Linked DNA regions of Homo sapiens: region 2 is linked to region 1. Evidence: fine-mapped expression QTL. A gene starts in region 1. The other region holds a variant in brackets. All regions are shown on one strand. Distances are from middle to middle.

The links. PIP is the estimated chance that this variant, and not a neighbour inherited with it, causes the effect.
Region 2: its variant is the best candidate, but not a certain one, in a credible set for the expression of MMEL1 in whole blood (TOPMed, PIP 0.66).

What each region holds. Positions count from the first base shown.
Region 1 is chr1:2,630,511-2,634,910 of GRCh38, reverse strand. MMEL1 (membrane metalloendopeptidase like 1) reads left to right here and starts at 1,895. Exons shown (of 24, transcript NM_033467.4): 1 at 1,895-2,045. It overlaps MMEL1-AS1 (MMEL1 antisense RNA 1), which reads right to left. Exons shown (of 3, transcript NR_183343.1): 2 at 2,236-2,409. RefSeq lists an enhancer at 3,665-4,165.
Region 2 is chr1:2,590,520-2,594,659 of GRCh38, reverse strand. It overlaps PRXL2B (peroxiredoxin like 2B), which reads right to left. Exons shown (of 7, transcript NM_152371.5): 7 at 3,192-4,140. MMEL1 (membrane metalloendopeptidase like 1) reads left to right here. Exons shown (of 24, transcript NM_033467.4): 18 at 217-275; 19 at 727-846; 20 at 1,694-1,827; 21 at 1,940-2,005; 22 at 2,633-2,728; 23 at 3,027-3,103; 24 at 3,571-4,021. The coding sequence ends at 3,670. Among named protein-coding and RNA genes, the nearest start is that of PRXL2B, 5.8 kb to the right of the region's middle. The variant G/A (reference allele first, on the strand shown) is at 1,857.

The DNA.
Region 1 (4,400 bases):
GTGTTTGGGGGGACAGTCTGTGTGGGTGTTTGGGGGCATGGTCTGTGTGGGTGTTGGGGGGATGGTCTGTGTAGGTATCTGGGGGGACAGTTTATTCTGTGTAGGTTGTCTGGGGGGATGGTCTGTGCGGGTGTCTGGGGGGATGGTCTGTGTGGGTGTCTGGGGGGATGGTCTGTGTGGGTGTCTGGGGGGATGGTCTGTGTGGGTGTCTGGGGGGACGGTCTGTGCGGGTGTCTGGGGAGAGAGTCATCTGTGCAGGTGTTTGGGGCGGCTGGGTTGCACTGCCCTGGGCACCTGCAAATCTGTGAGTGTCCAGTGACCGGGGTAGGTCTCGGGGTCTGCAGCCTCCTTGGCCTTTAGCCTCCTTTCCCAGTTTCTCTTGTCTGGCAGGTGCCAGGCTAGGACCCAAGCCTCCTGCTGTCACCTAGAAGTAGGGAGAACCTGGGAATAAGGGGTCCCAAGTTTGGCAGCCCAGGTCACCAGGTGGCCTTGGGCCAGGCTGGGGGCTGCTGGGCTGGACAGGCCTGGGGTTCGGGAAGGAGGAGCATGCACAGGGCCAGCCTTGGGGAGTCGGTTCAGAGTCCAGGGAGCCCCTGCTGAGAGTAGGCCAGGCCCCTGCATCTGTTTCTCCCTCTGTGGATTTGTACCTTAGAGACAAGAACACTGTGACATCCAGAAAGGGCCTGCTGGCACCAGGGCTGTCGGGCAGGTGGGCTCGGAAAGGCTCTGGCCTCTCCCCATAGCAGGAGCCTCCAGCCAGGCTGGACCCTGGCCCACTCCCAGCTCCCCAGAAAGGGCGGTCCCAGCTTCCTGCTTGGCTGGCCTTGACATTGTTTCCATTTGGGCCAGCAACCCAGGCAGCCTGAGGCCAGACTGCAGCTCCTGGGCTGGTTGCTGGGCGTGATGGCAGGGGGCTGCTAGGACAGCCAGCGGGCCCCAGGGAGAGACTTCCCGGGCTCAGGGTGGTGTCTGGGATCTGATCCCAGCCTGGCTGCAGCTCGAAGCCTTTCTCCTCCCAGGGCCTGGCCAACCTAAAGGGCCATAGACAAAGCTTCCAACAGCACTCAGCGTGGGAGACCTGGCCGGGGCGGCCGTGAGGAGCAGTTTGCCGTGGGACCCCTAGCTCTGTGGCCCAGCCCTGCCCAGATGCCCTGACACATGCCCAAGGCCTGGGCAGGAGGACTCGTTCTGGGGATTCTGAAACAGAAGCTAGAAACCTCATCAGGCCTGGAGAATCAGACAGAGACTGCTCTGCCCAGAACCCCCGTCCGCAAGCAGGGCTGGGTGCAGGGCTCACACTCTGATCACTGCGAACCCTTCAGAAGCCACAGAGCCCTTCTGCCAGCTCCCCGGCCAGGGCTGCCCACCCTCTGTAGCTTGAGGTCTGAACCTCATGAGTTTTCTGTGGGCAGAGGGAAGCAGCCAAACCCAGGCTAGTATCTCTGGGTGGGACCCTCCTGGCAGCCAGCGCCCACCCCCTTCAGGACCACCCCTTCCCCTTGCACCTTGGCAAGATCCCCAGAACCCACCATCCTCCTTGGAGATTGAAGAGAAAGAACACCCAGGGTGGGGCCTTTGTAACCCCCCACCGGGTGGTTAGGGGCAGAGCAGAGGGTGTGGAGTAGGACAAGGGCCTGACCTTCCTCCCAGCAGCCCCTGGGGCCCCTTTGGACTGAAAGGTCAGGAGACAGAAGCAAGGAAGGAGGGCGGCTTGGGAGGCGGGGCCAGAGGCCCTGAGAAGGGCACCCATGAGGCAGGGCAGCCCGGGTGCCAAGAAGCTGCCCTCAGCCCCTCCCCCCATGCCACACCCCCAGTGGAACCTCCTGACTGTGAGCAGGAGTCACCGCCTCCAGGGAGCCCATGCCTGCATCACAAAGGAGGCCCAGAAGCCTTCAGGCAGCCTCAACTCAGCCCCAAGCCACTGCTCTCCCATCCCAGTCCCTGGAAATCCACCCACTTGGCCCAGCTCACCCCAACTCCAACCCACTGGGACCCAGTCTCCAGGGGCCTGACTGTGGGCGGCAGCCACTCCTGAGTGAGCAAAGGTGAGTTGTGCTGAAGGAAGGTACCCGGCCTGCTTTCCTGGGCCTTGAAACCCTCTCCAGGCCCTCTCCTGGGCCTTGAAACCCTCTCCAGGCGCTCAGCCCCTTTCTCAGGAGGCTGGGCAGGGCGTCCTGTGTGCAGTCTCGCCTGTGCCAGGGCAGGCAGCCCCCTCTGGCATACGGTTTATCTTACCCAAAGGACCCGCTGTCCCCCATCTGTAGTAACCTGGAGAGGCCACGAGTGTCCCCAGGGAGCCGCAGTGCCTTCGCCTCAGCAGACACTCCACACCTGCCCCGGGTACTTGGCTCAATTTGAAGGTGTTTATTTTGTGTGTGCCGTGGGGCACATGGAGCCGTCTGTGGATACCTGCAGGACAGAATGAATTCAGGACGCAGGAGCAGATTCATTAATTCTGACCAAAGAAAGAAGTTCGTGGAAGCTGAGCTCAGACTTGTCCAAATGATTGATCCATTCATTCATCATTCATTCATTCATTCACCCAACAGATAATGACCGAGGTCTCTGGGGTGGGGGTGCCAGTCTAGGTGAAGCGGCCCCCACAGAGGGTGCCCCTGCCCGTGGAGCTGACGTTCCCAGGGGGCTGCAGAAGTATCGAGGAGATGTGGAGGTGGAGCTGGGAGTCCCTGGAGAGACACAGAGCAGGGGAGGGGCTGGGGCTCCCCGAGTTGAACCCGAGGCCGAGCCAAGGAAGGCCCCACTGGGAAGGGGAGCTTGGCAGGAATCTGGGAGGCCTGCCTGGGTGGGTGGGGAGGGTGGGGGGAGAAACCTGGTGGGCCTGCCTGAGGGTAAGGGGAGGGCATAGTGAGAGGGGAGGAGGGCCAAAGAGGGTCCTGACATCAGGGCAAGGCCCGGCTCTTCCTCCAAGGGTTTGGCTACCAGGGGCCAGGGAGTGACGGCCTCTGATTCTAGTTACAGGCCCCTGGGCCCCTGTGGTGGGGATCAGTGGGTGAGACAGACCCCTCAGGGGGAGGTGATTGGTGGGGCCTGGAACAGGCAGCGAGTGGCAGGAATGAGAAAGGGTCCGACTGAGATGGGCTTGGAGGCTGAGGACTGGCGCGGGGTGTGGACGCAGGCAAGGGAGGCAGATGGCTCCAAAGTCCAGCTTCAGCCAGTGGCGGGATAGGGGTGTCTAGGGGCACAGCAGAGGGCGTCAAAGGAAGCATCTGAGGGTGTGTGGATGCATGAACGCTGCGGTTCACAGAGCCAGGGACTGAGAGAGGTGGCTGAGGGGACAGGAAGGGAGGAGCGAGGGACCTGGAGGAGAGGAGTGAGGTCCAGGTCCCCGTCCCCGCTCCTCACACAGCCAGAGGTCAGGGATCTCTGGAGGAGTCGCTGAAATGAGCTGGCCCAGCCACCTTTGCAGGGTGTTGCCCAGACAGGCTAAGGGACATCTAGGATCTCCCAGGGAGTCAGGGACAGAACTCAGGCAAAGTCCACAGCAGGGGGGCGGTGGGGTACAGGGGGGCGGAAGCACATTTAGCCCAGGTGCTGGCAGTCTCAGCAGCCAGTCCCTGACCCACCCACAGGCAGGACTGGGCCTGGCTTCCTTTCGCTGCTCCCACATTATCCGCCCTGCCTGGTACAGGGCTAAGCTGGGGCTCAGCACAGCAGGTGTGTGATTGCGTGTGACGACTGAAAGTGCTGGAAGGCCAAAGCACCCAGCCGCTTCCCTAGGACCGGGCAACTTCCCAGCAGGGCTCCGAGTGCCAGCGAGGGATGTGCACATCCATGCATGTGCTCACATATGTGCACACACACACAGACATGCACAGCCACACACCAGAGCACACGCACACACGTGCACACCCACACACACAATCATGCACATGCACATGAGCGCACACGCACAGGTGCACAATCACAGTCACACACGTGCACACACGAGCGTACACGCACACACGTGCATATCCACGCACACAATCATGCACATGCACACACAAGAGCACACGCACACAATGCACAGTCACACACATGCACACACGAGAGTACACGCACACAGGTGCATATCCACGCACATAATCATGCACACGCACACACGAGAGGACACACGTGCACACTCAGGCACACACGTGCATATCCACATAATGCACATGCACACATGAGAGCACACGCACACGTGCACAATCACACAGTCACACACGTGCACACACGAGTGTACACGCACACACGTGCATATCCGCACACATAATCATGCACACGCACACACGCGAGCACAGGCACACACGTGCAGTCACACACATGCACACACGAGGACACACACGTGCACACTCACTCACAGTCACACACATGCACACATGAGCGTAGACAGTGCATATCCACGCAATCATGCACACGCA
Region 2 (4,140 bases), 40 kb after region 1:
CTGGGCCTATCTTGGACAGAGTCCCCCATCACCCTCTGCTTTCTGGGGCCCAAGTCGCCTCCTCCTCAGGGACCCCAGGAAGGAACCAGATCTTGGGATAGGCCTGGGCCCTTGCTCTGGTGTGGCCAGGGTAGGCCCTGGTCCATCAAGGCAGAGAGAGCCCAGAGGGAGGGTCCCCGGAGAGGCGGCTCCCAGAGACCGGCTTGTCTATCACAGCTGGATCATCGGGGCGGCGGTGGTCAATGCGTTCTACTCCCCAAACCGAAACCAGATTGGTAAGTTCCTCCCCCTCCCTGCCTGCCCAGGCCCTTTGGTGCCAGAGTTGAAGGGGTGGCTTGCAGCCCCCTGCCCATCCCTTCCTCCTGGGGGCACCCCAGCCTGTTCTTGGAACATTCTCCTATGTCACCCCTTGCTGCCCCCGTGGGGAACACTCACTCCCGTGCCCATGAGCGGCTTCGGGAGGGACTTGGCAGGCGGCCCAGAGCCTTTCCTGCAGGCAGAACAGGATGGTGGGAGGAGGCCGGACTGAGGTCCTGGGTCTGCCAGGCACGAGCCCGCCCAGCCTCTGAACCTCCGTGTCTTCATCTGTAAATTGAGGGAATCCTGACCTCTGCCTCCCGGTCTGTGGGATCAAGTGTCAGAACCCCTGGCAGCGCCATCCCTGAGCCTGGCACACAGGAGATGTGTCCACTCACAGCTTATTCTTTGTCCCGCCCTTGGGGACAGTATTCCCTGCCGGGATCCTCCAGCCCCCCTTCTTCAGCAAGGAGCAGCCACAGGCCTTGAACTTTGGAGGCATTGGGATGGTGATCGGGCACGAGATCACGCACGGCTTTGACGACAATGGTGAGCGGCCGCCCCTCCAATCACACACGCCCTCCCCTCTCCGCGGAGAAGCAGCCAGGAAGGGGCCTGGGGGCGCTCCATTCAACCCCTTCACGGTTTCAGTGGGGACACCGAGGCCAGGTCCTCAGGGAGCTGTGGGGGCAGAGCAGGCTTTGAATGCCAGGCTGGGGCCCTGTCTGGGGGCACTGACTCCCAGCATGGAGGAGGGGACCCAGGGACTCCAGCCCATGACCCTGACTCCACCTGGCACTGGGCACTTCCCTCCCACGGCCTGTGACATGGGGACGACAACACTGCCCAATACAGCAGCGAAGCCCAGATCCCAGCCTGGGAGACTCTCCAGACGGCCAGCATCCTCCACCGGGGGGTGTGCTACCCCCGCCATGGCCATGCTGACCTCCGCCCCTCGGTGGGGACTGCCCTGCCTGGGACAGGGGCCCCAGCTGGTTTTCCCCTGTGGCTCGGCCATCCGGACCTTCCGTGGGCAGTCCTTGTCCCCAGGGACCACGTACTCCTCTCGCCTGGAACTTAGAGTTTGGGCATCCCAGGAGGAGCCCTTAAACCATGATGCCTCCAAGACCACAGGACCCAGGTGCTAGGCCCTAGCCTCAGGGGGTGGCATGGGAGACCACTGAAGCCCTCCTTCTCTGGGGGCTGTGTAGCCCCAGACAGCTGCTGCCCCTTGGAGCCCGCGATGCTCTTCCAGGCTCAGCCTACTCAGACTGTGGGCTCTCCGTACTGGGGCTGGCTGCAGGAGGGGCAGGAGCGGCCAGGCACAGTGGCTGCCGTGGGGCCAGGCACAGTGCAGCCAGGGGCATGTGGGCAGCCCTCCTCTGCCCCTGCCCAGGCCGGAACTTCGACAAGAATGGCAACATGATGGATTGGTGGAGTAACTTCTCCACCCAGCACTTCCGGGAGCAGTCAGAGTGCATGATCTACCAGTACGGCAACTACTCCTGGGACCTGGCAGACGAACAGAACGTGAGCGCTGCCACCAGCACCCAGGCTGC[G/A]GGGGTACCGGAGCCCCAGCCCTGGCCCTGAGGGAGAGGGAAGTCAGGGCCGGGGCTGCCCCAATCCTGTCTCCTGTGCGCAGGTGAACGGATTCAACACCCTTGGGGAAAACATTGCTGACAACGGAGGGGTGCGGCAAGCCTATAAGGTGGGGCCTGGCAGGGGAGGGGGCGTCAGCGCGGCAGGGGAGGGGGCGTCAGCGCGGCAGGGGAGGGGGTGCCAGTGCATCAGGGGAGGGGGCGCCAGCACGGCAGGGGAGGGGGCATCAGCGCGGCAGGGGAGGGGGCGTCAGCGCGGCAGGGGAGGGGGCGTCAGCGCGGCAGGGGAGGGGGCGCCAGCACGGCAGGGGAGGGGGCGTCAGCATGGCAGGGGAGGGGGCGCCAGTGCATCAGGGGAGGGGGCATCAGCGCGGCAGGGGAGGGGGTGCCAGCACAGCAGGGGAGGGGGCGTCAGCATGGCAGGGGAGGGGGGGCATCAGCGCTGCAGGGGAGGGGGGCACCAGTGCCTCAGGGGAGGGGGCGTCAGGGGCTCATTCGGGACAGGTGGTGTGCAGTGGGCTGTCTGGCCAGGGATCCCCCCCCGAGGGCCCAGCTCAGGGGTCCCTGAGTGACTGAGGTGGTGAGCGCTCATCCGTGGGGTGTGTGAAGGGCCCTTGCAGCAGCAGGACCCCCACAGGGGTAGGTCCTGGAGCCAGACCTCTGCTCTGCCCTGAGATCTGAGGGTTCTGGAGTCCAGGCTGGCAGGCCTGAGCTCAGCTCCTGTCTGGTGCCTGCAGGCCTACCTCAAGTGGATGGCAGAGGGTGGCAAGGACCAGCAGCTGCCCGGCCTGGATCTCACCCATGAGCAGCTCTTCTTCATCAACTATGCCCAGGTGGCAGCCGCAGTCCTGGTCCCACCATCCCCATGCTTCCCCACTCATCTCTGGAGGGCCCACTCTGGGGCACCTCCAGGGACCAGAGCCCAGCATGGAAGGCCCCTTGGGGGAAAAGCATGAGGGGCAGGGGGCGGGAGCTGGACAGGATTTCAATGCTGATGGGAGGAGGGGAGCACCTGCTGACTCCCCTCACCCCACCCTAGAAGGGGCAGCCTGGGGATAGTGGAGACCCTCCCCCACCCCTCCTGGCCACCCCACCACGCCACCTGTAGCCACGCCCCCAACATGCCCACAGGTGTGGTGCGGGTCCTACCGGCCCGAGTTCGCCATCCAATCCATCAAGACAGACGTCCACAGTCCCCTGAAGTACAGGCAAGTCTCCCATGCTCACAACCCCCTTGCCACCCACAACCCCCTCACCCCCACCCCAGTGGCCTGTAAAAGAAGAAAGCACAAAAAGTGGCTCAACAGAGACAGGTTTATTTTGGGAATAAACCTGAGAGGGGCTTCTGGCCGATTTCGGTCAGGGACATTCTCTTACAGACTAAGGGCATTTAAGGGTTTAGGAAGGGGGAGCCTACCGCAGGCTGCGAATGTTTCTGTGTGAAGGAGAGTTTTATTGCAGAGTTGGAATATCTCTGGCTGGAGGGGAGGTTATTCTCAGGATTGGCATGTTTCTGGTCAGATGGGGGTTTATCTCATGGTTGAAATGTTTCTGCTCATACTGACATGAGCCATTAGGCTGATGTTTTGGGCTGGTTTTTAATCACGGAGAACTTAAAATGGCCATGTTTGTCCAAGATGGCAATGCTCCTGCTGTCACACCCACCCACCCACAGGGTACTGGGGTCGCTGCAGAACCTGGCCGCCTTCGCAGACACGTTCCACTGTGCCCGGGGCACCCCCATGCACCCCAAGGAGCGATGCCGCGTGTGGTAGCCAAGGCCCTGCCGCGCTGTGCGGCCCACGCCCACCCGCTGCTCGGAGGCATCTGTGCGAAGGTGCAGCTAGCGGCGACCCAGTGTACGTCCCGCCCCGGCCAACCATGCCAAGCCTGCCTGCCAGGCCTCTGCGCCTGGCCTAGGGTGCAGCCACCTGCCTGACACCCAGGGATGAGCAGTGTCCAGTGCAGTACCTGGACCGGAGCCCCCTCCACAGACACCCGCGGGGCTCAGTGCCCCCGTCACAGCTCTGTAGAGACAATCAACTGTGTCCTGCCCACCCTCCAAGGTGCATTGTCTTCCAGTATCTACAGCTTCAGACTTGAGCTAAGTAAATGCTTCAAAGAAATCAGAGGCCTTGCTTGTCTGGGAGGGACCAGGGTGGGTAAACAGGTAGCAGTGGTCTTGGGCAAAACAGCTGCCCGGGGGTGGGAGAGAGTGACAGCTGGGAGCTGATGGGGAGGGAGC